Homo sapiens: one gene and its partners. The protein of the gene in region 1 purifies or fractionates together with the protein of each later gene. This does not show direct contact. Each region holds a gene or a part of one and is shown on either strand. Other genes may lie near its edges. The genes, in order: POLR3K, POLR3B, URI1 and GPN3.

The links.
Region 2: the proteins of POLR3K (region 1) and POLR3B purify together in Homo sapiens (affinity purification with mass spectrometry; 6 studies listed by BioGRID and IntAct, with this or other methods). This does not show direct contact.
Region 3: the proteins of POLR3K (region 1) and URI1 purify together in Homo sapiens (affinity purification with mass spectrometry; 3 studies listed by BioGRID and IntAct, with this or other methods). This does not show direct contact.
Region 4: the proteins of POLR3K (region 1) and GPN3 purify together in Homo sapiens (affinity purification with mass spectrometry; 4 studies listed by BioGRID and IntAct, with this or other methods). This does not show direct contact.

The regions. Positions count from the first base shown.
Region 1 is NC_000016.10:44,308-51,530, reverse strand, and holds the end of POLR3K (DNA-directed RNA polymerase III subunit RPC10), read left to right. Parts: intron 1-3,973; coding exon 3,974-4,101; 3' UTR 4,102-5,124; downstream 5,125-7,223. UniProt on the Homo sapiens protein: Core component of RNA polymerase III (Pol III) which synthesizes small non-coding RNAs using the four ribonucleoside triphosphates as substrates. Can mediate Pol I proofreading of the nascent RNA transcript.
Region 2 is NC_000012.12:106,506,743-106,512,214, forward strand, and holds the end of POLR3B (DNA-directed RNA polymerase III subunit RPC2), read left to right. Parts: intron 1-885; exon of another isoform or gene 886-1,068; intron 1,069-2,677; coding exon 2,678-2,807; 3' UTR 2,808-3,456; downstream 3,457-5,472. UniProt on the Homo sapiens protein: Catalytic core component of RNA polymerase III (Pol III), a DNA-dependent RNA polymerase which synthesizes small non-coding RNAs using the four ribonucleoside triphosphates as substrates.
Region 3 is NC_000019.10:29,978,865-29,988,385, forward strand, and holds part of URI1 (unconventional prefoldin RPB5 interactor 1), read left to right. Parts: intron 1-1,294; exon of another isoform or gene 1,295-1,386; intron 1,387-6,358; coding exon 6,359-6,437; intron 6,438-7,417; coding exon 7,418-7,553; intron 7,554-9,521. UniProt on the Homo sapiens protein: Involved in gene transcription regulation. Acts as a transcriptional repressor in concert with the corepressor UXT to regulate androgen receptor (AR) transcription.
Region 4 is NC_000012.12:110,464,312-110,473,714, forward strand, and holds the start of GPN3 (GPN-loop GTPase 3), read right to left. Parts: upstream 3,893-9,403; coding exon 3,845-3,892; coding exon of another isoform or gene 3,815-3,844; intron 904-3,814; coding exon 795-903; intron 1-794. Other genes in the region: protein FAM216A, read left to right, coding at 4,565-4,707, 8,767-8,807. UniProt on the Homo sapiens protein: Small GTPase required for proper localization of RNA polymerase II (RNAPII). May act at an RNAP assembly step prior to nuclear import.

The DNA of each region.
Region 1 (7,223 bases):
AAACTGTGGATAATTATGAGGCTGTTGATGCCACTGCTTGGCAGAGTCTATGATGTCATATAAATGATGTAGGTTTCTAAAAATAGAAAATGGTTCTTGAATAATTTATTTGTATTTGTTACTGTTTAATAATCTGTCAGACAAGCAATATTTGTGCCAGCCTTGGAGTCATACAGGCCCGGGTCAGATTCTCAGGGCAACCTTGTATTGTTGTAGGACCTTCCTTGGGTCTCTTGACTTCTCTGGGGCTAATCCATATTCGTAGACCGCGAGAGCATAAAGTGAATTATACCGTGCTTGGTATATAAGAGGCACTCAACAGGTGATAGCTTTGATAATGGCAATGATGAGTAGATTAATAAAAATAAGAGTCTAAGGAAAAAAGTATGTTCTTTCTGTTTGATATGGTTTGGCTGTGTCTCCACCCTAATCTCATCTTGAATTATAGTTTCCGTAATCCCCAGGTGTCCTGGGAGGGGCCCAGTGGGAGGTAATTGAATCATGGGAGCGGTTTCCCCCCATGCTGTTCTCCTGATAGTGAGTGAGTTCTCACAAGATCAGATCGTTTTATAAGCGTTTGCGTTTCCCCTGCTCGCACTCATTCTGTCTCCTGCTGCTCTGTGAAGAGGTTCCTTTCGCCATGATTGTAGGTTTCCTGAGGCATCCCCAGCCACGCAGAACTGTGAGTAAATTAGACCTCTTTTCTTGGCTGGGTGTCGTGGCTCACGCCTGTAAATCCCAGCAGTTTGGGAGGCCAAGGTAGGCAGATCACTTGAGGTCAGGAGTTCCAGACCAGCCTGGCCCGCATGGTGAAACCCTGTCTCTATTAAAGATAAAATAATTAGCCGGGTGTGGTGGCGCTCGCCTGTAGACCCAACTGCTCAGGAGGCTGAGGTACGAGAATTGCTTGAACCCAGGAGGCAGAGGTTGCAGTGAGCCGAGATCACACTACTGCACTCTAGCCTCGGTGACAAGAGTGAGACTCTGTCTCAAAACAAACAAAACCCCTTTTGTCTATATAAATTACCCAGTCTCAGGTATTCATAGCAGTGTGAGAACGGACTAATACACGCTTCTAATATAGATTTTTAGAAGTTAATACCAGTGAGCATTAAACTGCAGATTGGGTAAAATACATGTTTATTGCATGTCTGGTAGACATAGATGTGGCCAGGAGAGGAAAGGGGAAGACGTAAATGTAAGTTATATTGAGAGGTGAGAGAGATAACTGATGGTTAGTACTGTGGTTTTCCCCCTATAAAAGAACATATAGGCTGGGTGTGGTGGCTCACGCCTGCAATCTCAGCACTTTGGGAGGCCGAGGCGGGCGGATCACCTGAGGTCAGGAGTTCGAGACCAGCCTGGCTAACACGGTGAAACCCCATTTCTGCTAAAAATACAAAAAATTAGCCAGGCGTGGTGGCAGCACCTGTAATCCCAGCTACTCGGGAGGCTGAGACAGGAGAATCGCTTGAACCCGGGAAGTGGAGGTTGCAGTGAGCCAAGATTGCATCATTGCACTCCAGCCTGGGCAACAAGAACGAAACTCTGTCAAAAAAAAGAACATACAAATCTGCTATGTGAAAAAGTTAGCAGCTGGCACGGTGGCTCACACCTATAATCCCAGCATTTTGGGAGGCCAATGTGGGCGGATCACGAGGTCAAGACATCGAGACCATCCTGGCCAACATGGTGAAACCCCGTCTCCACTAAAAATACAAAAAGTAGCTGAGCGTGGTGGTGCCTGCCTGTAATCCCAGCTACTTGGGAGGCTGAGACAGGAGAATCGCTTGAACCTGTGAGGCGGAGGTTGTAGTGAGCTGAGATCGTGCTATTGCACTCTAGCCCAGGCAACAGGAGCAAAACTCCGTCTCAAAAAAAAAAAAAAAACAAATTAGCCAGGCTCAGTGGCGCGTGCCTGTAGTCCTAGCTACTCAGGAGGCTGAGGCAGGAGAATTGCTTGAACCAGGAGGCGGAGGTTGCAGTGAGCCGAGACCATGCCACTCCAGCCTGAGTGAGACTGTCTAAAAAAAAAAAATCTTTTTACCTAATGTCAGAAATAGAGTGTTTGAAGCCATTTCTGTCAGGTGTAGGATAAGTTTCTCAAAGTGAAATCGCTTTGAAGAGTGCAATGGTGTGATCTCGGCTCACTGCAACCTCCACTTCCCAGGTTCAAGTGATTCTCCTTCCTCGGCCTCATGAGTAGCTGGGATTACAGGCATGCGCCACCACGCCCAGCTAATTTTGTATTTTTAGTAGAGATGGGGTTTCTCCATGTTGATAAGGCTGGTCACGAACTCCCGACCTCAGGTGATCTGTTGGCCTCAGCCTCCCAAAGTGCTGGGATTACAGGCCTGAGCCACTGTGCCTGGCTTTTTTTTTGAGATGGAGTCTCTTTTGCCCAGGCTGGAGTGTAGTGGCACGATCTCTGCTCACTGCAAACCTATGCTGCCCGGGTTCAAGCGATTCTCCTGCCTCAGCCTCCCTAGTAGCTGGGATTACAGGCACCTGCCACCACGCCCGGCTAATTTTTGTAGTTTTGGTAGAGACGGGGTTTCACCATCTTGGCTAGGCTGGTCTTGACCTCCCGACCTCGTGATCCACCTGCCTCAGCCTCCCAAAGTTCTGGGATTACAGGCAAGAGCCACCATACCCGGCCTCTTCTCTTCTTTTCAGCCCACACCAGAATCGCCCTTAATGCTCAATTCTTTTTTTTTTTTGAGATGGAGTCTCACTCTGTTGCCCAAGCTGGAGTGCAGTGGCGCGATCTCGGCTCACTGCAAGCTCCGCCTCCCGGGTTCACGCAATTCTCTTGCCTCAGCCTCCCGAGTAGCTGGGACTGCAGGCACCCGACACCACGCCTGGCTAATTTTTTGTGTTTTTAGTAGAGACGGGGTTTCACCATGTTAGCCAGGATGGTCTCGATCTCCTGACCTCGTGATCCGCCTGCCTTGGCCTCCCAAAGTCCTGGGATTACAGGCGTGAGCCACCGCGCCCGGCCCTTAATGCTCAATTCTTGACAATGCAGGCTTTTCCCAGCATTTACTTCAAAACTCTTCCACCATCTAACCATTACTTAGTCTTAGGCATTTTGTTACAGCAGCACAAAATGGACCAAAACAGTCACCTTCCATGTTACGTTTCCAACCAGCCTTCAGCTGGATTTGAGAAGAACCATGGGACTCAGGGAGGGGAGGGGGAGAGTGTGTGAGTCACAGGTCTCCCAGATTCCCTTAGTGTTACAGCGTGGTGGGAATGACATCACTGTTTGTAGATCTACCCTTGTCAAGGGGGATCAAATGAGCAGGGAGGTTCTTTACCATCTTTAAAGATATTAAGTAGTCTGGGCACGGTGGCTCATGCCTGTAATCCCAGCACTTTGGGAGGTTGAGGTGGGCGGATCATGAGGTCAGGAGTTCGAGACCAGCCTGGCCAACATAGTGAAAACCTGTCTCTACTAAAAATACAAAAAAATTAGCCGGGTGTGGTGGCGGGCAACTGTAATCCCAGCTACTTGGGAGGCTGAGGCAAGGAGAATCACATGAACCCGGGAGGCAGAGGTTGCAGTGAGCTGAGATCGCCCCACTGCACTCCAGCCTGGGTGACTGCGAGATTCCATCTCAAAAAAAAAAAAAAAAGATATTATAGTAATACCTACTTTTTTTTTTTTTTTTTTTTTTTGAGTGCAGTGGCACGATCTTGGCTCACTGCAATCTCTGCCTCCTGGGTTCAAGCGATTCTCCTGCCTCAGCCTCCCAAGTAGCTGGGATTAAAGGCGCCCGCCACCACGCCTGGCTAATTTTGTATTTTTAGTAGAGATGGGGTTTCACCATGTTGGCCAGGATGGTCTCGAACTCCTGACCTCAGGTGATCCGCCCGCCTTGGCCTCCCACATATTAAGTAATACCTACTTTTGACAGCCATGAGTAGCATCTTTTTTTAAATGTGGTCACTTCTTTTTTCTCATTGCCAGAGTCGTGTCCCAAATGCGAACATCCTCGTGCTTACTTCATGCAGCTTCAGACCCGCTCTGCAGATGAGCCGATGACCACCTTCTACAAGTGCTGCAATGCTCAGTGTGGACACCGCTGGAGGGATTAGGGCCAGGATGGCCCAGCTGCCCTAGTGTGTGCTTGCCTTGTCCCTCGGGGTAGATGCTTAGCTGGCAGTATGAGTTGTGTGTCCTGAGGGTCTTTGCTAGTGTGGTGGAAAGATAAACCTTTTGAGGTGAAGAGCCAGGGGGTCAGGAAATATGGCCTATCTGCCAGGCAGGGTGGATGAAGTCATGAATGTCTGGGAGTTTTTCTGTGTGGGGAGGAGACAGAGACCCATAACTAAATATGCTCTGTGTAAAGTCCTATTCTTTCATCTTCCACTTTATTGGCAGTTGACATTCCCTTACTCCCAATCAACACTCTTAAATATTTGTACTGTTTGTAAAACTTAGTACATGTCCCTAAATATTTAACTGTTACTTGTAAACTTGTGTAATTTATTATTTATTTTAATCAAAATTCTGAATATTTCATTTAAATGAAAGTTGGAATATTGCCTTCTCAGTGTTTTAAATAGCTTAAGAGGTAGAAAGCAAACCCCAAATCACAGTGATCCCAGAATAGACTACATACTTACATTTGAACAGGCTACGAAAATGTTAATCACCGGGATTTCAATTTCTTTCTTTATTCCTATTCTTACTCCCTTATTCATTTTTTTGAACCTCCCCTGATTTGCTTCCTCGGGTTGCTTTAAATGTATAAGATACTATTTATTTATTTATTTATTTTATTTATTTATTTATTTATTTAAGACAGAGTCTTGTTCTGTCGCCCAGGCTGGAGTGCAGTGGTACGAATTCAGCTCACTGCAACCTCTGCCTTCCGGGTTCAAGGGATTCTCCTGTCTCAGCCTCCCAAGCAGCTGGGACTACAGGCATGCACCACCACACCTGGGTAATTTTGCATTTTTAGTAGAGATGGGGTTTCTCCATGTTGGTCGGGCTGGTCTCCAACTCCTGACCTCAGATAATCTGTCTGCCTCGGCCTCCTAAAGTGCTGGGATTACAGGCGTGAGCCACTGTGTCCCACCAATCTTTACATTTAATATGACTATTTTCTTATTGTTTGAACATGTTGATCAGTTCCTGATCACAATATGGGGCCTATCCTATATGGGTCCTAGAGTGGTTGGATTTTATTTTTTAACCTAAACACAGACCCTAGGTTTGAAAGGGTGTACTGGGTCTGTTAGACTTATAGGCATTTTTTTTTTTTTTAATACTTAGCCATGCATCTCTTGCATTGTCACTCCTTTAGGAGTGCATCTGTCTTCTAAGGGTTAGCTCTCCTAACTCTTTTAAATCCCCTCTAATTTGATTAATGATTGGGGGCAGCCTTCTGAACAATATTTCACGGGACGAATACCCAGTTTGTTTGGTGGGGGTGTACCTGACTTGGAGGAGGACCATGGGCGAGACCCGATCTTATTTTAGATGAGTTTCTTGACAAAATTTTTTCAGCAGCTGTTTGAGTGTCTGGTTCGTGCACTGTACTTGAGCTCTGTGGCCTGTAGGATGTACGCAATTTCCACTTTATTTTTAATAGTCTAGTTAAGTCCTGAACTCTTGCAGCCACAAATGTTGGTCCATTGTCTGATCTCAGAGGCAGTCCAAATCTGGGAATAACGTCTCCTAACAACACCTGAGTCACTTCTAGTGCCTTCTCTGTCCAGATGGAGAAGGCCTCGACTTATCCTGAAAAGGTGCAAATGAACACCCACATGCACTGATAGCCCCCCTTTCAGGGCAATTTGGCGAAGTCCATAAGCAGCTTTTCACAGGGCATGGCTGGCTCATGTTTCCTGAACTCCTGGGGGCCAAGCAGGCCCTTGTTATGGATTGTTCTGAACACAAGTTAAACACTGTTTGTTTACAAATGGCTTGAGTAATAGCAGCGAGCCATGGCACATAGAAATGATGCCTTAATAATGTCTTTAGTGCTGTTTGTTTTTTTTCCCATGTGAGTTCCTTGGTGGAACTGTTCTACAAATCGGGGTCACCATTTCAGGTATGGCCTCCCATTGGAGAATTTTACCGTCCTCCTTCAATGTAGTTCTTATTTTTCTGGGCAAACCAAGCCCTTTTATTTGCAGGGGTGCTTGGGATCTCTGGGAGGGAATCTCCGGGAGGAGAGGCATAGCTGAGGCCTCCTCTTTAGAAGGTGGAGTTGTCACTGCAGCCTGCTTTGCCTTTTTGCCTTTCTATTTTTTTTAGCCTTTGGTGTTCTTGCTTTTCGGTGCCTCTCGCAGGGCATCATGGCCACCTCTTTTGGGGCTCATACAGCATCTAAGAGCTGCAAAATTTCTTCCTTGTGCTTTTTTTTTTTTTTACTTTCAGTAGTTAAAAGGCTTTTTTTTTTTTTTTTTTTTGTAAATAGCCTCATGAACATGCAAAGTGGCAGAAGCATATTTGGAATCTTTGTAAATATTTGTCTTTTGGTCTTTTCCTAGCCAGGGAGTTCTTGTCAGAGCTATCAGCTCTGATTTCTAAGCAGAAGTTTCTGTAGGCAAAGACTGCACCTTTACTACTGAGTCCGAAGTCACCACTGCGTACCCAGCTTGGTGGACTCCCTTTAGTATGAAATTGCTTCCATCAGTAGAGTATTCAATGTCTGAGTCCCCGAGGGGCCGATCTGGTACATCTCTCTGGCTTGAGAACACTTTATCTACCAAGTCCACACAGCAATGAAGGGGGCCTCTTGGCACTGACTTGATGAGGAGCAGTGTAGCTTGGTTTAGGGTATTTAGTCTCTAAAGTCAGTTTATTAGCTTTTTCCACGACTGCATTCACGCCCGCGTCCATGCCTTCTTGCAAAGCTAGCTTCTCTTCCTGTAAGCGCTGCTGCTAGTAAATTAGCCTTTCTTAAGCCTCTGATCAGCCTCCTGATCTCCGTTAATGTACACCTTGGTAGCCACTTTAATAAGCTGAGTAGCATTCACGCCTGCGGAGCTTCCAACTTCTGTAATTTATGCCCGATATCTCCTTGGGCCTGCCTTACAAATGTCGTATTCACCATGTGCTGATTTTCAGCAGCCTCAGGGTTAAACGGAGTGTACAACCAAAATGCCTTACGAAGTCTATTATAAAACTGACTGGTGCTTTTATTTGCACCCTGGAGAACCTCTGAGATTTTGTGTGTGTGTGTGTGTGTGTGTGTGTTTTTAGA
Region 2 (5,472 bases), on another chromosome or scaffold:
ATTTTGAGTGGCCTACTTATACCCTTGTTGCCAACAGAAAAAAATCCTAATCCATTCTAGTAGTCTAGCCGCTGCCTCGGGTGCTGCTTTCTGGCCGAGGAGCGTAATGATGCTGTCATTTTTCCCATCATTACCTGATCATGTGTGCTGGGTTGAGTGGGAGGGAGCATGGGCGTCGTTGGAGGAAGTCGCTCTTTAATGAGCCACACAATGAAGGCTAGGTAATTAGAGCAGTTCGGAACCTTGAAACTGGCCTTTTGTCAGGGATTTGCACATTAGTGAGGCATTGCTATGGGGATGTTTACAGCACGACTGTTGTTCTACAGAAGACACTAAGGGCATAAGTCACAAAAGAGAGGTCCAAAAGGAAGACTTCAGGAAGAAGAAAATCCCTATTAAGGTAATTAGCTCATAGAGGATGTTTCACTGGACAGTCATTTCTCGTGTGAAGCCACAGCCTCCCCTTTTTGCTACCTTTGCCCTAAAAAAGCCGTTCATTTTATTGTTGTTCACGTCAAGTTTCTACCTTTGCAAATTGTTCAGATACAAGGTAAGGTAAGGTTTTATACACACACATGCACGTTGGAACATTTTAAATGATGGAGAAGTATTTAATAATAGAGAAGATTAAAGGGCTTTCTGGAATATGAATCAGTACATATGGAAATTTAAAATAGATTAGCTTGGATCGGAGTCATTGGGTAATGTACTAGTCAGGAGAAGAAGCGAAAGGTACCCCCGTTAAATGCATTTCCCCAATTTAATGAAAGCATGAACATGATTCCTAGATAAATTACATCAACCCAAGCACATTAAAAACGTAATTTTTGAACTCGAATGCATTAAATAGGTCTTTAGATAATCTTTTAAGAAAAAGTAACTCACCAAGTTTGTATTTGTACTGTTAACGGATCAAATACAGGTTAAGCACCCTGCGTCCCCTCATCATAACATCAACTGTGCATTTGTGAGGGTTAGTCTTCTCCCATTCTCCTCCTCAGGAAACTCTGTCTGCATAGTTACCACCACCACGTGCACATTCTCAGCCTCAGTTCTTGCTTTTCTTTTCTAAAATAATACAAGCTTTATTTTACTGATTGCAAAAATGATCCCTGCTCATTGTAAAACATTCAAAAGTTACCACAAATATAAAGTGAGTCACATTAATTCCCACCACCCAGAGATGACCACTATTAACATTTTGGTGACTCTTTCAAGATTCTGATAAGGGCAGAAAAATACAAATATACACACAAAAAACTTAAAATTTTACGTATGATTTTGGGGGCTCCATACACTTACAAAACTTGTTTGAGGGCCCCCTTGGGACCATGCTGATCAACAAACTGCTTTTTTCACCTCACAGTTTGTCCTATACACCTTCCATTTCAATAAATGTGTGTCCACAACAGCAGGTCTAATGGCTTCACAGTCTTCTTCTATCTAAATGTCCCAGTGGACATTTGCATATTCTCACCTTATGCTGTTATAAATAGTGTGGCTGTCAGCATTCTTGTGCACATACCTTTGCCACTTTTGGGATTACAAAATCAAAGAATATGCACATTTACAGTTTTTACACACACTGTCTTACTGCCCTCCAGAATGGCCAATCCTTTGTTCACTAAGGAATCCCCCTTCAATTCCTGGTCAGCACCCGATCTTCCAAGCCTCAGTTGCTATTCTTCTTGGACTCATTTTCCTCCTCGTTAACTGTGAGGACCTAGTTTTCTACCTGTTAAGAGTCAGGATTTGTACTGGATACCTACTGTCCTAGCTGCTGCAGACCCTTGAGGTGTAGGGTAAGGTTGTATTTTGGTCTGAAACCTGAAAGAATAATTCACTTTCTCCCCAGGGACCCTTCTACAGTTGTAGCCATTGATTAAGAACTAAGTTCAGTTTACCAGCTCTTCCGGAAAGAAGAGAAATTAAAGTCCTAATTGGAATATGAGGCAAAGTGGTTAGGAACATGGACTGTTGTTGCTAGGGTTAAGTGGGAACATATGTGCACATGCACACATACACACATTTCTTAGTTTTGCACAAGGGACAACATGTTGTAAGTATAGTACCTCCAACACTCATAGAAATCACCAAGCCTGAAGAGCACTAGACAAGTTACCATTTGATTGAATACCACTGTCCTATTCAAAAGTCTTGTCTTTTCCATCAGACTTTACGTATCTCAGTGACAGAAATCAAGTTATAATTGTTGAGCGCCTTGCCTAGAATAATATACTGCTAGTATAGTTGATGCTTATCAAATACATGGAGATTGATTGAATTGGTTTAAAACTCTTTAAACAATGAAAAAAATTTAAATCTGAGTAAATTTCCCAATGGTTCAGATTTCTGGAGCTCTTTCAAAACAGTATATTGGCAAATGTTTTACATTTTAAGGAGAAAGGGCTGGATGTGTGGTAACAACTGACTCAACTTGCATGCTTTAAACACTGGAGGGAATGGTGTTTGTTTCCTCTTTTCTTTTGCTTCCTTGGATGTTTCTTTTTTTCTGGGCACATACGTACTTATATGATAGTGCAACTGAACACTTAGGAATAGAAAGATAATTTGATAGAATGATAATAGAACTTTATAGAGACCATTCTCACTTCCTACGTGGAGGCCTTTGTTTCCGAGTTGCTGTCTGTCTAACGCTTGCTGACTTGCGTTTCAGGTGCCATTACTGCAAGTCATCCTGCCACGTGTCTTCCCTCCGTATTCCGTATGCCTGCAAGCTGCTCTTCCAGGAACTACAGTCTATGAACATCATCCCCAGGTTAAAACTGTCCAAGTACAATGAATGAGGATGGAAAAAATGATTATTAAAGAGAACAAGTGATACATCCAATGCAACGGAAAGCAGAAGGGATTTAGGACTACGTCTCCTCCTGTGAAGAATTCCCTTGCGTATTCTCTCTCTAAAACAACCAAAAAAAAATGGAGAGGCTTTTTATATACTCTAAGACTGGCTAAACAACCTTGATCATTGAGCCTCGAGCCATGGGAGAGATGCTGACCATGTGGACTGCAAGGCTGCTTGATTCACAGATGGATGTGACCTAAAGGATAAATAAGCTATTACTTATGTGCTGATCTCTTGACATTCACTCATTAGAAGACCTTACTCCTTCAAGCAAATGTTTGGGGTCAAATTTACCATATCTTCTGGCTAACCATATTCAAGATTCTTCTGAAACTTGGAGGATGTAAAGAATCCATTTGATTTGGTCAGCCTGGCTTTTGTCGTGGTGGCTGGCTCGGATAAATTTTCCCAACAATTAAATCTTGCCTTTACACACCCAAACTTTGTAATTTTAGTCTTGGTGAAATATAATGAATTTGTTCCTACCTTGTCAAGCAAGAATGTCGTCTTCTCCTATGGACTCAATTGCTATTATTTTAAACCTGCATGATTGTACCATGCAATACTATTCGTTAAATATCTGAATCTAACCCCGTGGCTGCTTTGTCATGCTCTGTCCCTTCCATGCCTGCCAGGATGCTAGCTGTCCATTTCATTTTTAATCTGACAGACTTCCTTACTCATTTCTAATTTGTTCTCAACTGCTGCCCCAAAGCCAGATAAACATTTGTGTTAAGGATTGTTTGTAAAATCAGAGTCAGAAACACTTTGAGTAATGGCCTAAGCCTTCATTCCCAGCATGTCACACTGAAGATGTTCAACAGAATATTAATAGGTATTATATACCAACAAGAATCAAGCTCCTATGTCAAACTAAGGTTGAGAAACGGGGTAACCAAGTTAAACATTCCACAGGACTTTTTCAAAGCCCTTAAAGATCCCAAGCTAATGTGTACTGGGTTTCAAAAGAGGGATGTTCCAGGGACCGAGGCTAGTCATTGACTTGAGAACTCAACCTCACTTCTTCTTTTTCTTCACAATAAAAAATTTCTAACACACGTGGGTATAACAGTCATAGCGGTATCAGTGAAAGCAGAATGAAAGACACTGCAGGTGAGCAGGCCTTCCTCAGCCCTCATGGCAGGGACTCAATAGGTATTCTTTTTTCTTTTTTTTTTCTTTTGAGACAGGGTCTCTCACTCTGTCACCAAGGCTGGAGTGCAGTGGCAAGATCACGGCTCACCGCAGCCTCAATCTCCCGGGCTCAGGCTATCCTCCCACCTCAGCCTCCTGAGTTGTTGGGACTACAGGCGCATGCCACCACACCCAGCTAATTTTTGTATTTTTGGTAGAGATGGAGTTTCGATGTTGCCCAGGCTGGTCTTGAACTCCTGAGCTCAAGTGATCCGCCCGCCTCGGCCTCCCAAAGTGCGGGGATCTCAAGTGTAAGCCACTGCGCCTGGCCTCAATATGTATTTCAACAGGTATTTCAAAAAGGAGTTTGAATGTTCAGATCTTTGCTATGCCAATTCCTTTTTTTAACCTAGCTTATAGTTCTCAAAACTGATGGTACATAAGGATTGCCGTACTGGATTAAATGTACAATCATACTGTACTTTGTGGGCTTTTTAAGGAGTTTTCTAGGGTGATCCTGATTATCTCACATCGTGTAGCAAATCCACTTCCCAAATCCATTTGCCCTGCAGTGTGGGACACACCATTTCAGTGAACACTCAGAGGGTCAGGCTGGAAGAGTTAAAGGCAGTGTGCTGGGTGCTGGCAGGAGGACTTCATCGTTCATCATTCAGTACCTGCCACGTACAAGGCACTGGACTAAGGATAAAAGAACAGGACAGGGCCTCTGCCTGACCGAGGACATAGTCCAGTGGAGGAGGCCAAGATATATGTGCTGGTCATGGAGCACTGCCCTGCAGTCAGTGCTGAGGATTAACCTCGGCAGTGCTGAGGGAGTGCCCAGGGCAAAGCAGCCAACAGTGCTCTGAAGATTTGGAAACACTTCACAAGTGTGAGTATGCCCTTTATACATGAAGAAACTGACGCCCTGAGTAGCTAAGTGACTCCCCAGAGCCTCACTGCTAACAAGGGGGACAGCAAGGGCCTTGGGACCAGGCATTCTCACATGCAGGGCTTTGTTCTGGTTTTATCTGTGATTATATATTTTTCAGTCACCAAAAGTGATAGTTTTTAAAAAAATTCAGATGCCCTTGAATGGTTGTATCTTTTATAAATGAACATCCTTCTCAGGAAACCATTCCAAGCCAGTCTAATCTTTCTGAGGGAGTCACCTTTCTAAGTGTCTAGGAAATTCTAAGTTTACAAGATCTAGAAAGTATGGGTTTTCAAGTCGAGACATCCTTAAAGGAAAAAATTCTATCAGATTGATATCTCAAAAATTAGCAACTGCCACATTTGAATAGCTATTTGACTCTGAGAAATACTTTAATGAAAAGCAGCCAGACACCAGGCATGGTAGCAGGCACTTGTAGTTCCAGCTACTCAGGAGGCTGAGGCGAGAAGGTCATTTCAGCCTACGAGTTTGAGACCATCCTGGGCAACACAGCAAGACCCCATCTCTAGGGAAAAAA
Region 3 (9,521 bases), on another chromosome or scaffold:
AAAACCAGGATTGCCATTTTTCACTGTTGTAAAACCTCTTGAGAAACTTTAACCCGGAGGTATCTATGATTGGGCCTCTGCTGAAACTATATGTAAAATATGAGTTCTTTTCTCAGGGAAGAGCCTAGAGTTTTTCTAGTTTCTCATAGGGATCAGTGACCTAAAAGGGTTTTTTAATTGCTACTGTAATTAAGAAAACCCACAAAATTACTTTTTTCTAAAATATGCTTTAGAAAGAAAATATAGAAAGTGTAAAGTAGCAAAACCTATGAATTACGGTAAGATTTAAGTAGAAATTTGCACAAACTTTCAAAGCTTAAGTCAGCTATAAACTCATCACACCTTTTCTAAAAGGTCCTTTCCTTTGATTTGTAATAGGAATTTATATTAGTTATAGAAAATTTGGAAAATAAAAAGAACAAAAATTACATATAAACTCATCAGTAAAAATTAACTAGGCACTTTAGGATATTTCTTTCAAACGTAGATGAATGTGTTTTTACATAATTTTAAAGGTTTTTTGCTTTGAATTCACATCTCATTTTCTTAGAGCAAAAGATTAGTAATGAGTGAAGAAACAGGCACCTGTGATAACTGACAAGTCTTCAAACACATGTGTATGGTTGTTGTAGAGAGAACAGTAGAACAGATTTTTCTGTCCAGGCTTACTATATATATATATCCATTGCACTGTTTTCTCATTGTTGAAAAGTTAAATTGAAGAAATCTAGTAGAATGTTAGCTGCATCTCTCTTTAGATAATTTTGTTTCATTGACTTGAAAAATTATGTTTTTATATGCGGGTTAATCTTGGTATCTATGTCTAATAGTAAAGTTTTCTGATGGACTCATAAAATATAAAGAACATAGATTATTTCATCAGCATCTTCTGATGACATAAATTCCTTGGTATAATAGAGTTATAAAAAAGGAATATACCACCATTCTGCCTGAATTTTGTGGTACATTTCAGTTACTTATATCAATTGAAATTACTGAATATTTTGCCATGACCATTTAGAAAAAAAGTGTAATGCTATTGATTTAATTCAAGTACATTTAAATTTTCCATGAGGAGTGTTCCTTTTCCCACCAAATTGCATAAAGCATAACAGTATAGATCCCTTTTTCAAGAATTTTTAAATAAAATGTAACTTTTATCAATTTGTTTAGATTGTTTAAAAGGATACTTTGAAAAAAATCATTATTTCTTGCTTTAGTAACTGGAGGACATCTCTTTATCTATATAGAATCCATGCCCAAACTTAATATTCCTCTATTTTCTTGATTTTAGAGGTGAAAAGCCAGGCATCCTTCAAGCTAGTGGATCTTTGACAAAGATGCATTGCAAAACAATCAACAAACAATCAGAAAGGCATGCTATGTGTGAGTGATGATCCCTGCAGCATATGCCATAGGCTTGTTGTAGAGGAGCTGCTCAGTAAATGGTGGATTCAATTGAAACAAGTCTTTTTTGGATGCTTAATGGGAAGTTGTAGGGTGGGTATGATGGACTAAAAATTATTTCTAAAGAAGGTTATATATTGTATATATTCCAGAATCTTCCGTTTTTATCGTTTCTTAAATTAAAAAATAAAAATTTAACTCTGTCCCAGGTTAACTCAGATGTTAACACTTATATAGAAATTTTTTTCCTCTTTCCCCGTTAGGCATCTCACAGTATTTTCTGCTTGTCTGTTTAGGATGTTAGGTAGAGGAAAAGAGAGTGATAGAAGATTTTTTTTCTTAAAAAAAAAAAAAAAAAAAAAAAAAAACTGGGCCAGGCATGGTGGCTCACACCTGTAATCCCAGCACTCTGGGAGGCCGAAGCGGGTAGATCACAAGGTCAGGGTTCGAGACCAGCCTGACCAACATGGTGAAACCCCGTCTCTACTAAAAATACAAAAATTAGCCGGGTGCGGTGGCGCGTGCCTATAATCTCAGCTACTCAGGAGGCTGAGGCAGGAGAATCGCTTGAACCTGGGAGGTGGAGGTTGCAGTGAGCCGAGATCACGCCACGGCACTCCAGGCTGGGTGAAAGAGTGAGACTCCATCTCCAAAAAAAAAAAAAAAAAAAAAAGTTCAATGTTAGTATTTGCTGTCTATTTTAACTTCTTACTTTAAAGTAAAATTAGCAAAGTCTTATTGTTTCAACCTGATTTAAATTTTATCTCCCTTTTTTATTATTTAAAGGTTGGAGTCTTTATCACTGGCCTCAAAGGATGTAGACTTTTTTTTTTTAATAGAGATTTTTATTTTTGTCAGTCACTTTTAAGAGGATTAAAAATGTTGATCCCTTTCATATTTCCTCGTCCCTTTAAAAATATTCTATTATGACAAATTTCAAACATATGGAAGAGTGAATCTTGATCACCTATCTGTCTGTACCCTAATCCGTTAATCCATTTTTTTCTGATGAATTTCAAATTAAGTTGTGGACATCTGTGTATTTCACCCCTAAATACTTGAGCATATCCCTCATTTAACTTGATTTCTCTCTTACTTTCTACAATTTTATGCAAATGAGCTGTTTCCCATAGGTTCTGTCTTGATCTTAATCCTTTAAGGGTAAGGGCTAACTTGTGGTTGTGTTAATGGTCTTCATCGCTGCTGCCTATTTTTTTTTTTTAATTTCCTTAAAACAAAAGGTACTCTCAAAAGGCATATTGCACATGATTAGCAAGATTCAGAAGGAAGTGGTTAAAGTTTCTTACATGCCTTATACCTATGCTTTTAGTTCTTGTTTTGTATAAGGAATGTTGCATGAGGATATTGGAAAAAAATTTAAAATTAAGAGTTGAAGGCGGAACCTGATCTATAAGGATCCATTATGTTGAAGCCAAAGAAGCAGGTCTAGCTATTCTAAGTAAGTAGGCTGGAGAGGTGTTTCTTAACTCTATCTGGGTTTTGTTTTCCATTTGAAGAAAAATTATTTTAAGCAATTACCATTTTTGATTACTGTAATGACTCCTGTGTCCAAAAATTAATTACGTTTCTAATTATTAAAATAGAAAAAAAAATCTGTTCAAATTTTGTTATAAATAAAGACCCCAGACTTAACCTCAGTAATGCATTAGTTCTTAGCATAACTTTTGCATTTTCTGTTGCATAGGCTTTGTGATCTTTAACAGGATTATTTAAGCCTGAAATAATAGAGATACTATTTGGAGATCACTGTTTGACTAAGCCCTGAACATTTCCACGAATGTAGCCTTTAGAGAGAGAGGGTTCCTCAAGCTGTAGTTTCTTCCAGAGACATTGCTTGACTCCTCCTGGCCTCCCTTCATAAAGGATTTCTACATGGGCTGCATTTTAAGTGATCTTCTACTTTTGTATTTTTAGAAAATAATTCAAAATTTATAAATAGCAACTCTAATCTTAAACTGCTCTCCAGTATGTCCGCATTTTTATTCCAGAGAGAATTATTAATAAGTTGAAAACTGATTATATTTGACTTGAAATATTGACATTGATCTCTGGTATTGCCTGTTTTTGAACGTACTGTTCTTTTAATGTACAAAATAGATGTTTTTTGTGAGGAAGTTGTTTTTTTTTCTCCTAAGCATTGTTACCAAAATAAGACTTATTGAATGGTGACTTTAATACTAGCTTCTTAATATTCATAGAAATATTTAGATATCTAGGCTGGTGTATTTAGTCCTTGAGCATTTGCAGAATTACTTATCTGAAACATAAATAAGCTGTTAGTGTTATGTTATTAATAGTGAGTGTTGACTGTCTAGGCACTGTACCAGTCAGTCCTATGGAGACATTCTCCCATTGATTGCTCACACCAGTCCTGTTTCCAAAGCCCCTGAATGGTTACATTCAGCTGTACTGTCTTTCAGCAAGTTATACTATTTGTATCAAATTGGTTAGTGAAATCTTGTAGGTAATAGTCTTTCTTGAAAGTTTTGGAATTGATGTTTTTTGATGCTTCATGAAAAAAATGAGTTTTGAGTTTTGGAACCAAAATAGTAGTTGCTCCATGCTGGGCAGTGTGTTAGACCTTTTATATTTAATTCTGTTGAACCTGTGAGATAAGTATTAGTCCAATTTTGCCATTGAAGTTACTAAGACTAAGGTGAATTTGTGTAAATTGCATGTAGAGCTTGGGATTCACTCTCTGGTCTGACTTCAAAGCCATGTTCTTTCTGGTACATAGCCTTGTGCATGAAGTTTTTTTGCCATTTTATCCATATAAAAATTTTCCAGGAGGAGGATTTTTGCCTTAAACAAAAGAATAAAACATGTTTCGTATTTATTTATAGAAAAGGATTTTTTTTGGGGAAAGTTATAAAGCAGTTGCACACTAGAAAATGAGAAAGCTTTCATGAAGGAATGCAGGTCAGAAGACCTAGCTAGGTTAAACTCATTGCTTACCTCATCTTGATAGAGGAGATCTGGCTTCTTGCTATGTGGTTTTTCCATCTTCCTTCTACTTTGTCTTCTGTAAGAGAAAAATACTGATAAGTGACATTTATTATAGGTTATGTAAAATAATATATATGTGAAATTCCTTAAGATCTTAAGACTGAGCTAATTTTTTTTTATTAATTATGCTACTGTTGCTTCAGGGAACTAAGCAGTAAGCTGAAACCAATTCTGTGATGTTTGTCATTTATATTATCTGGAGAGTTGTTACCTACATTGCAGTTTATCCTGATTTCAATTTGACAATGTCTACATGTTCTTTTAAATTACTTGCTGAGTTGGTGAATTTTTGTTTCTGTTATTTTTAAAAACTGACAACATCCTTCTGCTTAAAAAAAATTCAGTGCTGTAGTTTTGCTTGCAGCCTGTATCTTAGCAGGGAACCCTTTGGAAACCCAGTCTCCAGAGAAAGTTTGACGGGCATCTTGGCATAGGCTGCTGCCTGGTATTACTCAAAAAGAAGGGCTGTTCATTTCCAGCAGGTGTTAAGAGCTGAGTAAGGCCCATAGCATGGAAATACGATCATCTCTGCCCCTACAGAGTTACATATACCTTTTGGTTGTTTGAAATTACTTATTTGGTAGCTCTGTTTGATGTAACAAGAAACAGACTCCTAGGCCAAATTGAAACGCCTTTTGTATTATCTCTACTTAATTTCTTCTACCCCCAGTTGATTCTCTCTTACCTTAATCACATTATTATGAATAATTGAAGAGCTGATGATGCATTTTTCAGCCTAAGGTTTTCTGATGAGGACTAAAGCATCTGATCAAATTTCATGTTCATGATTTCAACTTCACAGCCAGTATCTATTCACTCAAAAGCTTTATTAAATCTCTTCTTTCGGCCGGGTGTGGTGGCTCATGCCTGTAATCCCAGCACTTTGGGAGGCTGCGGTGGGGGGATCGCTTGAAGCCAGGAGTTCGAGACCAGCCTGGCCAACGTGGCGAAGAAACCTAATCTCTATGGAAGATACAAAAATTAGCTGGGCGTGGTGTCATGCGTCTGTAGTCTCAGCTACTCAGGAGGCTAAGGCAGGGGAATCACTTGAACCCAGGAGGTGGAGGTTGCAGTGAGCTGAGATTGTGCCACTGCACTCCAGCCTGGGCAACAGAGAGAGACTCTGTCTTAAAATAAATAAATCTCTTCTTTTTTCATCTTGAGTCCCTTCTTCTCTCCAAATATCAGGCCCTCTTTTACTGTCTCCCTTAATTTTCACATTTTATTTGGTCCAGATAGTCTTGTATCTTAAAAAACAGTAATTCTCAAAATTTGAGTATTCTGCTTCTAAATGCCAGAGTCCCTGAAGAGTCTTAATTCTTCAATAAATGTATGGTAGAATAATGCCATTGCTAAACTGTATAAAAACAGGATTTTAAAACTAAAAATAAAACCACATTAATCTTGAATTTGCTAAAATTATGTTTTTGATTAGCTTGTTTTATGATACCTGGCCTACTGGGCCTCCCAAATTGCTGGGATTACAGGCGTGAGCCACCACACACGACTGAAAGAAGAGATTTAATAAAGCTTTTGAGTGAGGCCAGGTGCAGTGGCTCACGCCTGTAACTCTAGCACTTCAGGAGGCTGAAGTGGGAGGATCATGAGGTCAGGAGTTCAAGACCAGCCTGACCAACATGGTGAAACCTCCTCTCTACTGAAAATACAAAAACTAGCCTTGCATGGTGGCGCACACTTGTAATCCCAGCTACTCAGGAGGCTGAGGCAGGAGAATTGCTTGAACCCGGGAGGTGGAGGGTGCAGTGAGCCGAGATCACGCCACTGCACTTTAGCCTGGGCGACGGAGCGACACTCTGTCTCAAAAAAAAAAAAAAAAAAAAAAAAAAAAAAAAAAAAAAAAAAAAAAAAAAAAAAAAAAGAAAAATCGTTAATAATGTGTGTATTTGGTGTTTTCTGTCAACAGGAAGAAGGTAGATAATGACTATAATGCCCTTCGAGAAAGACTCAGCACCTTGCCTGATAAATTGTCTTATAATATAATGGTATGTTTGGTGTGTTTCTTTTAAAGTAATAGTTGTTTCTTGTAAACATATTAACTATGTGTCGGTTCACAGAATGTCAGGCTGATGGACTGTGTCCAAGGTAACTATGTAGCAAGGAAGATTTGTTTTGTTTTACTTTATAAGAACACAGTAATTGTAGTAATTGTTGGTATTTACCTTTTTTTTTCAGAATATATATGGTGACACAAATGACATAAATATTAGCACAAAATTGGACATATTTCAAATGGAAACTTACTATATAAAAAATGTAATTATGACAGAAATATGGTACTAAGTCGTTTCTTGTTAGCCAGAGCAGGAATAGGCCATAATGTTTTGTAATTCACAGAATTAAACCTTAGGACATTGATTTTTATATAAAAACGTGCTGCTAATTTTTGTTTTAATGATCTTCACATCGACATAGTGATCTGTTCATGAGCCCTGGATTAGAGCCTTTCATTGCATGAATGTTCTTTCTTATGAAGACTTTGTTCTTTTATACTAGTCCAAGTATTTTGTATATATAGCTAGATAGATCCATTAAAGCTATTTGTTTACTAATTCCTGCTTTGCAAAAGTGTCTACTTTATTGAAAATAATTTTTAGTTTTCTTTATCAAAAGTATTTTGCATTGACAATGTTTCACTACTAGTTGCTTTCACTTAGATTTGCAAGTGAATGAAAAGTATAAACATGCCGAGACAGTACTACTTTCTTTAAGAGCTATATGTAAATATGGTGTGGATTTATTTTCCTGTTTTAACATTGATTTATGAACATAAAGCAATTTTCTTTAGATTTTCCTAGTAAAATTTTAATATAGTGTTGAATTTCTGTGAAGCTGGCATTTTATTTTTCCCAATGTATAAATAAAAAAATTCAGTTATGTAAGGCTTTTAATGCGAAGTGTTTTATAAAATGTACTTTTCAGTGTTTTATGTTTTTTCCCTTTTTTCTTTTTTTTTAAACAATAGGTACCATTTGGCCCTTTTGCCTTCATGCCAGGAAAACTTGTCCATACTAATGAAGTCACTGTTTTACTGGGGGACAACTGGTTTGCAAAGTGCTCAGCAAAGCAGGCTGTAGGTTTAGTTGAGCACCGGAAAGAACGTAGGTACCCATTTTAAATGATGTTTCTTTGTTGTATATGTATCCATTCACAGATTGCCAAGCTGAAGGGCTGTTTCTTACCAAAAGTACCTTCCGTGATCTATGAATCCAGGCTGTTTGTGATTCTGTTGAATTGTAGGTAGTTTGAGTAGAACCAACATTTGAGAATGAGCTGGAGAATGGAGCATCCGGGTTGGAAATGTCACCTACATTGGCATGTTTTCAGAAGTTACAAAGTTTCAAAGTCATTATGTGATTTTGTAGTTAGAAGTTGGGAAGACATAAAAATTGGAGTCATTTTATACCTTATAATTTTTTTTTAGTTGCTATTATAGACTTATTTTTGCACTTAATACTTTAGTACACAGAAATAATGTGTTTTCTCCTTAGTGAACTAAGAGAAATACCTGTTTACATAAGTAGACAATTCTTAAAAATGCTTTTTGGTTTGGAAAAAAAACCATATTTTCATTTGATAGAGGAGACCAGGTGTGAAAAGGTGCTACCTAAAACAGCACCCTTATCCTTTTTCAGTTGTTTGAGTTCTCTGCATCCCTTTATTAGGGCAGCTCTTGAGTTTTGTTTATCCGTGCTATTATCTGTAGGTGTATAGAAGCCTACATACACACACACAACACACACTACACATTTTGCAGTTGGATGAGCTAGCTTGGGTTCTAGCTTAGTTATATTTTAAAATTAGGTTCAGTTTATAATCTGTTGTTATTTCTGTAATACGTATTTAGATTGAGAGTATAATATCCGCCCTACCTGCTTTTTAACCTTTTAGTTAAATGTGTATTTGAAAATAAATGATGGGAAGATCCTTTTTTATAAATAAGGTCATACTAAACAGAAAACAGCTGAGTTTTCTAAAGCTGAACTTGATTTCACTTATACATGAATGAGTACTAGAGAACTCATTTACTCAGTGAAATTCTGGGAACTATATTTGGAGACTCTAATTGCAAATCAACTCCTATAAGTTTATAATTGATATATATTTTGATCTTTTGTGACACTAATCAGAATCTTATTGTTAGGCCTGTATGTAATTTCTGGCAATGATAAATCTTTTGGCTTTGCTGCATTATTTTTGTCATGTATATTAGCGAAAGAGAATGGGCATACTTTTTTCTTAAAGACCTTACTGAAGACGAAGCCTCTCTTTATATACTGAAGTAGCTCTGATGTTATGAAATGAATCCATAGCCTGTTGAAGTTTGTTCACATTGATTTTCATATTTCAGTGAAAAAAATCTTTATAATTAGTTATAACTTAAAATATTAATGGGAATACTTATACTACAATAGAATAGAGCTCTAGAGTAGAGAAACATGTTTTTGTAAATCACTTTCTAGTAGTTAAATATGGTTTTGGAAAGTGACCAAACATAGATGACTTTTGGGATCAATATTTATCTAAAATAATTTTCAAAGTACATATTTCCTGTTACAATAAATTCTGGGCCGGGCGCAGGGGCTCATGCCTGTAATCCCAGCACTTTGGGAGGACAAGGCAGGTGGATCACCTGAGGTCAGGAGTCCGAGACCAGCCCGACCAACGTGGTAAAACCTCGTCTCTACTAAAAATACAAAAATTAGCCGGGCGTGGTGGTGTGTGCCTGTAGTCCCAGCTACTTGGGAGGCTGAGACAGGAGAATCACTTGAACCCAGGAGGTGGAGGTTGCAGTGAGCTGAGATTGTGCCACTGCACTCCAGCCTGGGCAACAAAGCGAAATTTTGTCTCAAAAAAAAAAAAAAAATTACGTAAAGCTCTTTTATTCACATGGTTTTATAATTTATACCTGAAGAAAATACTTAGGTATATTGTTGTACTTCACATTTATTAAGAAAAGGTACTTTATTTTTCTTAAGGCAGAGGAAATATAACCAGTTAAACACATAGTCATCTATGTCATGGTTGATTGGGGTAATTGGGGAAGGTCTGAGTTACAACACGGGTCA
Region 4 (9,403 bases), on another chromosome or scaffold:
CATCACATTCTGTAACATGTTCATCATGTTGTTTATTGCCTATTTCCTAAAGGGTTGGTGTGGGCAGGGATAATGTCTGTATTATTCTCTGCTATAACTCCGGTGTCTGGCGTAAAACAGGTGTTCAACAGACACTTGAATGAACAAATTGAAAGAATTAAAAAAAACAAACCCAGGCTCCTGACTTATAGTGATCAGCAATATACCACATGATTCACTACAGCAGGACTAAGGACAAAAGGGACAGAATGAAAGGGTGCTGAGGGAAGTGTCCATTTACTTTTTTTTTTTTTTTTTTTGAGATGGAGTCTCGCTCTGTTGCCCAGGCTGGAGTGCAGTGGCGCAATCTCGGCTCACTGCAACCTCTGTCTCCTGGGTTCAAGCGATTCTCCTTTCTCAGCCTCCTGAGTAGCTGGGATTACAGTCACATGCCACCACACCCAGCTGATTTTTTTGTGTTTTTAGTAGAGACAGGGTTTCACCATGTTGGTCAGGCTGGTCTCAAATTCCTGACCTCGTGATCCACCCGCCTCGGCCTCCCAAAGTGCTGGAATTACAGGCATGAGCCTCCGCGCCCGGCCCCATTTACTTTTAAATCTTACATCAAAGACCAAGAAAGGATACTGTCACACATATCACCATGAACAGATGTGACCAAATGACAAGCTCATGCTATTTACCATAACACCAGGGATCCAGACTATAATAAGTATCAGTGCTAAGCAGCTAGTACTCACTGCCTCCCCAGCCCTTACTGTTCCTGAAGGTGGGGGGAGCCTTTGCTCAGGACTTACCAGCCATCACGGAGTAGTTGAAGTGTTCTGCTGCTGGATCCAGGTTTACAACTTGGACAGACCGGTTGAGGGCTTCACAGTGCTGGACCATGGTGGCACAGTAGGTGCTCTGTAATGTCACAAGGCATGAGAGGTTAAAGCAACAGGTAGTGTAGTGCTACCTTCCATACTCTGGAATACTATCCACTAAGGTCAAAACTATGCCTTCATCAACCAAGAGGCTGACTGACAACAAGGGAAAAAGATACCTGACTGGGCTGCAGATTCAAACCTGACTTAGACTCATGGGTACCTCTGGGGAATTTACTTCTCCACTCTGCCCTTCAATTTTCGTGTCTCTAACTGGGATGTCCTCCATAATCACTAAGGCTCCTTACTGTTCTAAATGTGACAAGCGGTATTTAAAGGGAAGAGTTCTGGTTACATAGTGTAACACCTAACACAGTGTCTCTACCAGGACTTGTACAGTGCAAACAAAGCTTTAGGTAGGATGGTCAGGGATGATGTCTCTGAGTAGGGGAGATATGAGTATATGAGAAGGAGTTTGCCAACCTAAGGGGAAGAGCATTCCAAGATGAAAGAACGCCAAGATCAATAAATAGTCTGGAGGTGGCTATCAGTTTGTAACTTTTGGTTTAGATAATTCTTTATCCATTATGTAGTTGTTACCGTACTATGTTAACATCTCGGGCTGGGTGCAGTGGCTCACACCTGTAATCCCAGTACTTTGGGAGGCTGAGGTCGACGGATCACCTGAGGTCAGGAGTTGGAGACCAGCCTGGCCGACATGGTGAAACCTCGTCTCTACTAAAAATACAAAAATTAGCTGGGCGTGGTGGCGTATGCCTGTAATCTCAGATACTCAGGAGGCTGAGGCAGGAGAATCGCTTGAACCCGGGAGGCAGAGGTCGCAGTGAGCTGAGATCACACCACTGCACTCTAGCCTGGATGACAGAACAAGACTCCTGGCTCAAAAAAAAAAAAAAGTCTCTAGGCTACTTGTCTGTGTCATACTCTGTTTAAAGGCAGAGATGTGTCTTATTCAGTTTCCCAAGCACAGGGACTAGCGCAATACCTAGTACATAATAAATACTTGATAATTGTTTCTAATTGACTTATTATGTTTAAAGATAAGCTCCACAAGGGCACGGATTTTGTGTGTGCATGTTTTTTTCCCCATACAACCCCCAGGGCCCAAAACAGTGCCTGGGATAAAGAACGTACTCAAGGAATGTTTCTGATAGTAAGCATCAAAAGCTTATAAAGATACTTGTTTAATACAATCAGCCCAAAAATTAAAATAGACTATAGAAAAAACATCCATCATGCTGTCCTCTCAGTGCCTTTACACATACTGTTGTCTCTGTCTGGAATGCCCTCTCCATACATCACACACTGTATCTTTTTTTTTTTTGCAAAGGGTCTCACTGTCACCCAGGCTGGAGTGCAGTGGCACCATCATAGCTCACTGCAGCTTTGACCCAGGCTCAAGCGATTCTCCAGCCTTAGCCCCCCGAGTAGGTGGGACTATAGGCTCTCGCCACCATGCCCAGCTAATTTTTGTATTTTTGGTAGAGACAGGGCTTCACCATGGTGCCCAGGCTGACCCTGAACTCCTGGGCTCAAGTGATCTGCTGGCCTCAGCCTCCCAAAGTGCGAGGATTACAGGCTTAAGCCACCACACCTGGCCACATCACACTGTATCTTAATTGACAGGTCATCTATTTGTCTTCCCCAAAAGACTACAGACTCTGGGTAAGTTAAAGGCCATAGGTATCTTAGTTACATGTACATGTTTTTACCCAGAATAAGTCAACAGCTTAGAACAATGTGTTTGTTAAAGACTGAGGCCACACAACACCTCCACAGACTCTAGTGTTTCCACACTTCTTCTTTTTTTTTTTTGCGACAGTACCTCTGTCACCCAGGCTGGAGTGCAGTGGCACGATCACCACTCACCACAGCCTCAACCTCCTGGGTTCAGGTAATCCTCCCACTTCAGCTTCCCGAGAAGCTGGGACTAGAGGTACCTGCCACCAGGCCTGGCTAATTTTTGCATTTTTTTGTAGAGACAGAGTTTCGCCGTGTTGCCAAGGCTGGTCCCAAACTCCTGGGCTCAGGCGATCCGTCCACCTCCATCTCCCAAAGTGATAGGATTACAGACGTGAGCCACCACGCCTGGCTATGTTTCCCACACATATGTTATTTGATCCATATCTTCACCATTCTCACTGTATTTGAATGTTCCTAACATTCCCTTAATATTTGTTTACAAGAAAAAATTTTATCCCTACTGTAAACTGAAAACCACTTATATTTGACATAACGTGAAATTAGACATAAAATTATATAAAATCTTTAAATGTTCTATTTTTAGCTAAATACAGGTGCCTATTAAAAGCTCTGAGACTAAGAACTGCTCTCTGAAAAGACCTGGGGATTAAAGAAGTGCTGAAGATACACACTAGCACCGAGCACAACTTCTCCTAAATGCGAAGTTGAGAACTGAAAGAGAAATGAAAAGGGAACAATTTCCCTAACACATTATCTGATGCTCCTTAATGTGGGGTCCATGTACCACCTACCACCTAAAAGCACCTTAAATACCAAAAGTCCATGTCCCAAGTTCTGAGAAACAGTAATTAATGAGACCCCACTTTACCCTCCTGGGAGCGAGACAGGGCCGGATTCTGGAGTTGAGACAAAACTGGATTTATATTTTTTTGCGGGGCAAAGAACTTAATTAACCTTTCTGTATCTCGTTTTCTGTAAAATGAGAAAAATGAGATCTCTCTCACAGGGTTGTTGTAGAAATAAGCGAGGCGTTTCATCTGCTGCCTGGGGCTTAAGTATACAATAAATATTAACAACTACCATTATTTCCCTTTCAAAACAACAACAAAAAAGAACGTGAAGCCAGACAGCAGAAATGAGTTGCGTGGGGTCTCAGGGTTCCCAGTACACACACCCGCCGGCTCACTCCCTCAGGACCCAATCTCCCGCCTTCCACGAACTCCTACTTTTCTCTCCTTGTCCCCGCAGATCCTCACCTTCCCGCTGCCCGCGGGGCCCATGACCAGCTGCGCATACCGAGGCATGTTGGCTCCCGGAGCCGCCCGCCACACTCCCTTAGCCTTCGCGCGACGCCCACTGAGCTCCGGGAAAGTGAAGTGCGAACCAATCGCAATCCACATTCTTTCTACGCCTCCAGTTCTACCACACCTCCTACTACGGGGCAGCCCGCGGGCCAAATCCCGTGAGAAACGCGTCCTGAGAAAAAAGGGGAGGGGCGAGGGAGAGGATTTGCGCGTGCGCAAAAGTAGTTGATGGAAATCGGCCGTTGGGATGCTGTCTAAGCTTGGATACCTGAGTAATAACGGACAACAGATAAAGCTCCGCATCCTTGCGCCACGTGCTTCGGTCCGTGGTTTGCGTGCAGACGTTTGACCTGTATGGTGACCCTCGCGATTTGCAAATGTGCTGAGGATCTGGAATACTGAAGTGGAAGGCACCTCTTGTTTTGGGGAGCATGTATATTTCCCTCCTGTGACGCACTGCTTCCACAGAGAGGTGCAAACGTGCAAACGCTCAGCGACCGCAGCGCTCCTGCCCCTCCCCCACCGTAACTCCGGGGTCGCGGATCTGCCCGCCCCGCTCTCCCGAAGCTGTTCGGGCAGTGTCCGAACGGCTTCGGAGGGGCGAGAAGCCAGCATCCGAGCCGCCTCTCCGGAATACCAGCAGCCTGACGCACGCGTGCTGTCGGGGGAGGGATGCTGGGACAGCTGCTCCCGCACACGGCTCGCGGTCTCGGCGCCGCGGAGATGCCCGGCCAGGGTCCGGGGTCCGACTGGACGGAGCGTAGCTCTTCTGCAGAGCCGCCCGCTGTGGCCGGGACCGAGGGTGGCGGCGGCGGGTGAGGTTGGGGGCCCCGGGGTAAGGGTGGCAGCATGGGGCCCCCGGGTCGTGAGGCCCCCGGGTCGTGAGCCCCGTGGAGGAGGGCTGCGGCCGACCTCTCGTCTCGGGGGCTGGCCCCGGTGCCCTCAAGTGAGAGGCGGGGAGCAGTTTTGTTGTGGACAGAGGGCAGAGGGGAGGACTGCCTCGCGGTTGAGGGAGGGTCTCTGAGGGAAGCTTCGGAGGAGCGTTTGGTGCAGTGGCCACGAGGTGACTGCGACAGTCGCCCGCGTGCATCTCTCTGCCCCGAGGGGGCGCTGCGAGCCCTGCTGGGACGTTTGCTGTCTGGCACAGGACTGTGTGTCCACCGAAAGGCGAGGCGGGAGGGACAGAGGAGGAAGATGTCCCCCGGTTCAACTGGGGGCATCCAGGCCCATAAACCAGTTCCTTCCCTCTAGTGACATGAGCCACCTTCCTGTCAAACGGGGATTTCTTTTTCTTTTTTTTTCTTTTCTTTCTTGTTTTTTGAGAGCGAGACAGTCTCGCTCTGTTGCCTAGGCTGGAATGCGGTGGTGCGATCTCAGCTCACTGCAACCTCAGCCTCCCAGGTTCAAGTGATTCTCCTGCCTCAGCCTCCCGAGTAGCTGGGATTACAGGCGCCTGCCACCACGCCCGGCTAATTTTTGTATTTTTAGTAGAGAGGTGGTTTCACCATGTTGGCTAGGCTTGTGTCGAACCCCTGACCTCAAGTGAGCCGCCCGCCTCGGCCTCCCAAATTGCTGGGATTACGGGGTGAACCATTGCGCCCGACCTCAAACGAGGATTTCTAATCGCCAATGAGACCAATGACTGAATATCCGAGGTGCCTTGATCTTGACATTTTCTTCACACTGAAGTTCCTTTTTTCACAAATCTATTTCGTTTTGAGCAGGTTTTTACACCTATTTCCTAGATAGTGAAGACAGCGAGCTGTTGAAGTCACTGCTGGAGACTCTACCTCCTCTTCCTCTCCCTACTTTATTCCCTAAAAGCAAGAACTGCGATATGTTTGCCGTTCAGTACAACCCGCAGTCAGGGCCCCTGTTGCACCCATGGCCATCCTTTTTGTTTTTTTTTTTTTGAGACAGAGTCTCGTTCTGTTGCCCAGGCTGGAGTGCAGTGGTGCCATCTCAGCTCACTGCAAGCTCCGCCTCCCGGGTTCACGCCATTCTCCTCCCTCAGCCTCTGGAGTAGCTGGGATTACAAGCGCCTGCCACCACGCCCGGCTACTTTTTTGTATTTTTAGTAGAGACGGGGCTTCACCGTGTTAGCCAGGATGGTCTCGATCTCCTGACCTCGTGATCCGCCCGCATGGCCGTCCTTTTTGTCTCTGGTGCTACTGAAGACTTCTTAAAGATGGGATGGAGTCTTGGGTTTCTTTTCTGTTCTTCACAGTCCTTGGCCGACTGCAGGATCCTGGTGTATCAGGAGATACGTGAATTTTTTTTTTTTTTTTTATTGAGACAGAGTCTCCCTCTGTCACCCAGGCTGGAGTGCAGTGTCACGATCTCAGCTAACTGCAACCTCCGCCTCCTGTGTTCAAGCAATTCTCCTGCCTCAGCCTCCCAAGTAGCTGGGACTACAGGTGTGCGCCACCACGTACCTGGCTAATTTTTGTATTTTTAGTAGAGATGGGCATGAGCCTGTAATCCTGGAAGGTTCTATTATGATCCCCACTTTATGGATGACAAAACAGGCACAAAGAGGTTGTTTGTCCTTTCCTTTTATCTCCGCCTGTCGTTCATCTCCATGCTTCCTTTAGTTTATCCAAACTCTTAAAACTACAATTAAAAAAAAAGACAGTATGCCCTTCAGTTTGGTTTAAGGAACCCCATTAAAAAACACAAACCAAGACTAATTTATGAAAAGCTTATATTCCCAGAAATACAAAATAAAATTTTCAAACTAGAATCAGGTTTATTATGCTACATGATACAATGTTGGCACTGGCAGGGGTCTTAAAAATCATCAATTCCGGTCATATTTACTAATCTGAAAGGGGAAGTGATCTGCCAAAAATCCCATTATTAACTAATGGGAACTCCGGAACTCCTTACTTTTTTTCTTCTTTTTTTTTGAGATGGAGTCTCGCTCTGTCACCCAGGCTGGAGTGCAGTGGTGTGATCTTGGCTCACTGCAACCTCCGCCTCCCAGGTTCAAGCGATTCTCCTGCCTCCTGAGTAGCTGGGACTACAGGCACGTGCCACTACGCCTGGCTAAGTTTTTGCATTTTTAGTAGAGAACGGGGTTTCACCATGTTAGCCAGGATGGTCTCGATTTCCTGACCTCGTGATCCACCCGCCTCGGCCTCCCAGAGTGCTGGATTACAGGCGGGAGCTACCGTGCCCAGCACTTTTTTTCTTTAAAGTCAGGTTTATTGAGGCATAATTTACACAAATTAAAGTCTTACTTTTTCATGTATAATATGATGGGTTTTGACAAATGCACATGGCTATGTAAGCACTGCCACACTAAAGATACAGAGCAGCTCTATCACTCCTTCAAAACTCCCTCATACCTTATAAAGTCAACCTTTGAGAAAGGAAGACACAGGAGGGTTGCCAGCAGAGAAGTGATGTGATCTTACTTTACTTAAAAAGGATCACGCTGGTTGCTAGTTGGAGAATAAACTAGAAGGAGCAAGCGTAGAATTAAGAAGTTGGAATACAAGAAAACGATATGGTGGCTTGGAATAAAATAGCAAAGGAAGCGGCGGTGAAAAGTTCATAACAAAAACTTTATAAACTTGGCGCCTGGCCCATGAACTCTTGGTCATTGAATAAATTGCAGGATGAGGATCAGTTGTTTTGTCTTAAGTTTAGAAAAGAAAAAGAATTTGTACGAAATTAGAAACATTACAGACCAACTTATTAGTTCTAGCACACCTTAATTACTATTCAAAGAACAGTCTTTCGGCATGGCGTGGTGGCTCACACCTGTAATCCCAGCACTTTGGGAGGCTGAGGCGGGCGAATCAGTTGAGGTCAGGAGTTTGAGACCGGCCTGGCCAACATGGCGAAACCTTGTCTGTACTAAAGATGGAAAAATTAGCCGGGCGTGGTGGCGGGCACCTGTAATCCCAGCTACCGGGAGGCTGAAGTGGGAGAATTGCTTGGACCTGGAAGGCGGAGGTTGCAGTGAACGGAGATCACGCCATTGCACTCCAGCCTGGGCAACAGAGCAAGACTCTACCTCAAAAAAGAAAAAAGAAAAAAAAAAAAGAACAGTCTTTTCAATACCCAAATCACTTCATTAAAAATAAAGACAGCAAGATAATCACATGGATAGCCCAGGAGCCCCAACTACTTTATTGAGCTCACTGTAGGAATGAGATTAGGAAGCTATAAAATTAAGACCCAGGATAGGCATGGTGGCTCACATCTGTACAAAAATTAGCCAGGCGTTTTGGTGGTCCTGGCTACTTGGTGGCTGAGGATCGTTTGAGCCCAGGATTTTGAGGCTGCGGTGGGCTATGATCACGACACTGCACTCTAGCCTGGGTGAAGGAGGGAGACCCCATCTCTAAAAAAGGAAAGAAAAAAATCTTGGAGCCATTAGGATTTAACCAGAATTATAGGAAAAAATTTGTAAGACATTATTTCTGATGGAAACATGAAAAGTAAAAATAATATGCAACACTATCCTTTTTTAAAATTTGAAATATGTTGGTTGGGTGCAGTGGCTCACACCTTTAATCCCATCACTTTGGGAGGCTGAGGCAGGCAGATCATCTGAGGTCAGGAGTTTGAGACCAGCCTGGCCAATATGGTGAAACCGTCTGTACTAAAAATACAAAAATTAGCTGGGTGTAGCAGCGCTAGTCCCAGCTACCTGGGAGGCTGAGGTGGGAGAATCACTTGAAACTGGGAGGCAGAGGTTCCAATGACCTGAGATCATGCCACTGCACTCCAGCCTGGGTGACAAAGTGAGACCCTGTCTCAAAAAAAAAAAAAAAAAAAAAAAAAAAAATTGAAATATGTTGTTCAGTGCTTGTAACATTGTAATTATTACATATTATTTATATGCTTTATTTTTTCAACAGATCAGCTGGATACTCTTGTTACCAGAATTCCAAAGGTTCTGGTGAGTAGTGCATATAAAGCAGATAATACTTATAAGTAACATGGTTCTGAGAAGCCTATTTGTCTGTAACTACTTACACAATAGAGTTTTTTTCTTTTTTCTTTTTTTTTTGAGATGGAGTCTCACTCTGTTGCCTGGGCTGGAGTGCAGTAGTGCGATCTGGGCTCACTGCAACCTCTGCCTCCTGGGTTCAAGCGATTCTCCTGCCTCAGCCTCCTGAGTAGCTGGGACTACAGATGCGTGCCACCATGCCTGGCTAATTTTTCTATTTTTAGTAGAGACAGGGTTTCGCCATGTTGGCCAGGCTGGTCTGGAGCTCCTGACCTCAGGTGATCCACCTGCCTCCGCCTCCCAAAGTGCTGGGATTACAGGCATGAGCCACCACACCCAGCCCACAATAGAGTTAAAAATAGATTGTATTAGCATCCTTGGTGAACTTAGTCTTTAAGATTTCAAAGAGCAATCAGGGAGGTTTTTCTTGTCTGTTGGTACAGTATATTTTACATCAAGCATTTTTAAAATTAGCAGTGAATCCTAAAAGAACTGTATTTATAGCTGACGTTGGTTGAAAAGCACAGAGCACAGCCTGGGGTTTA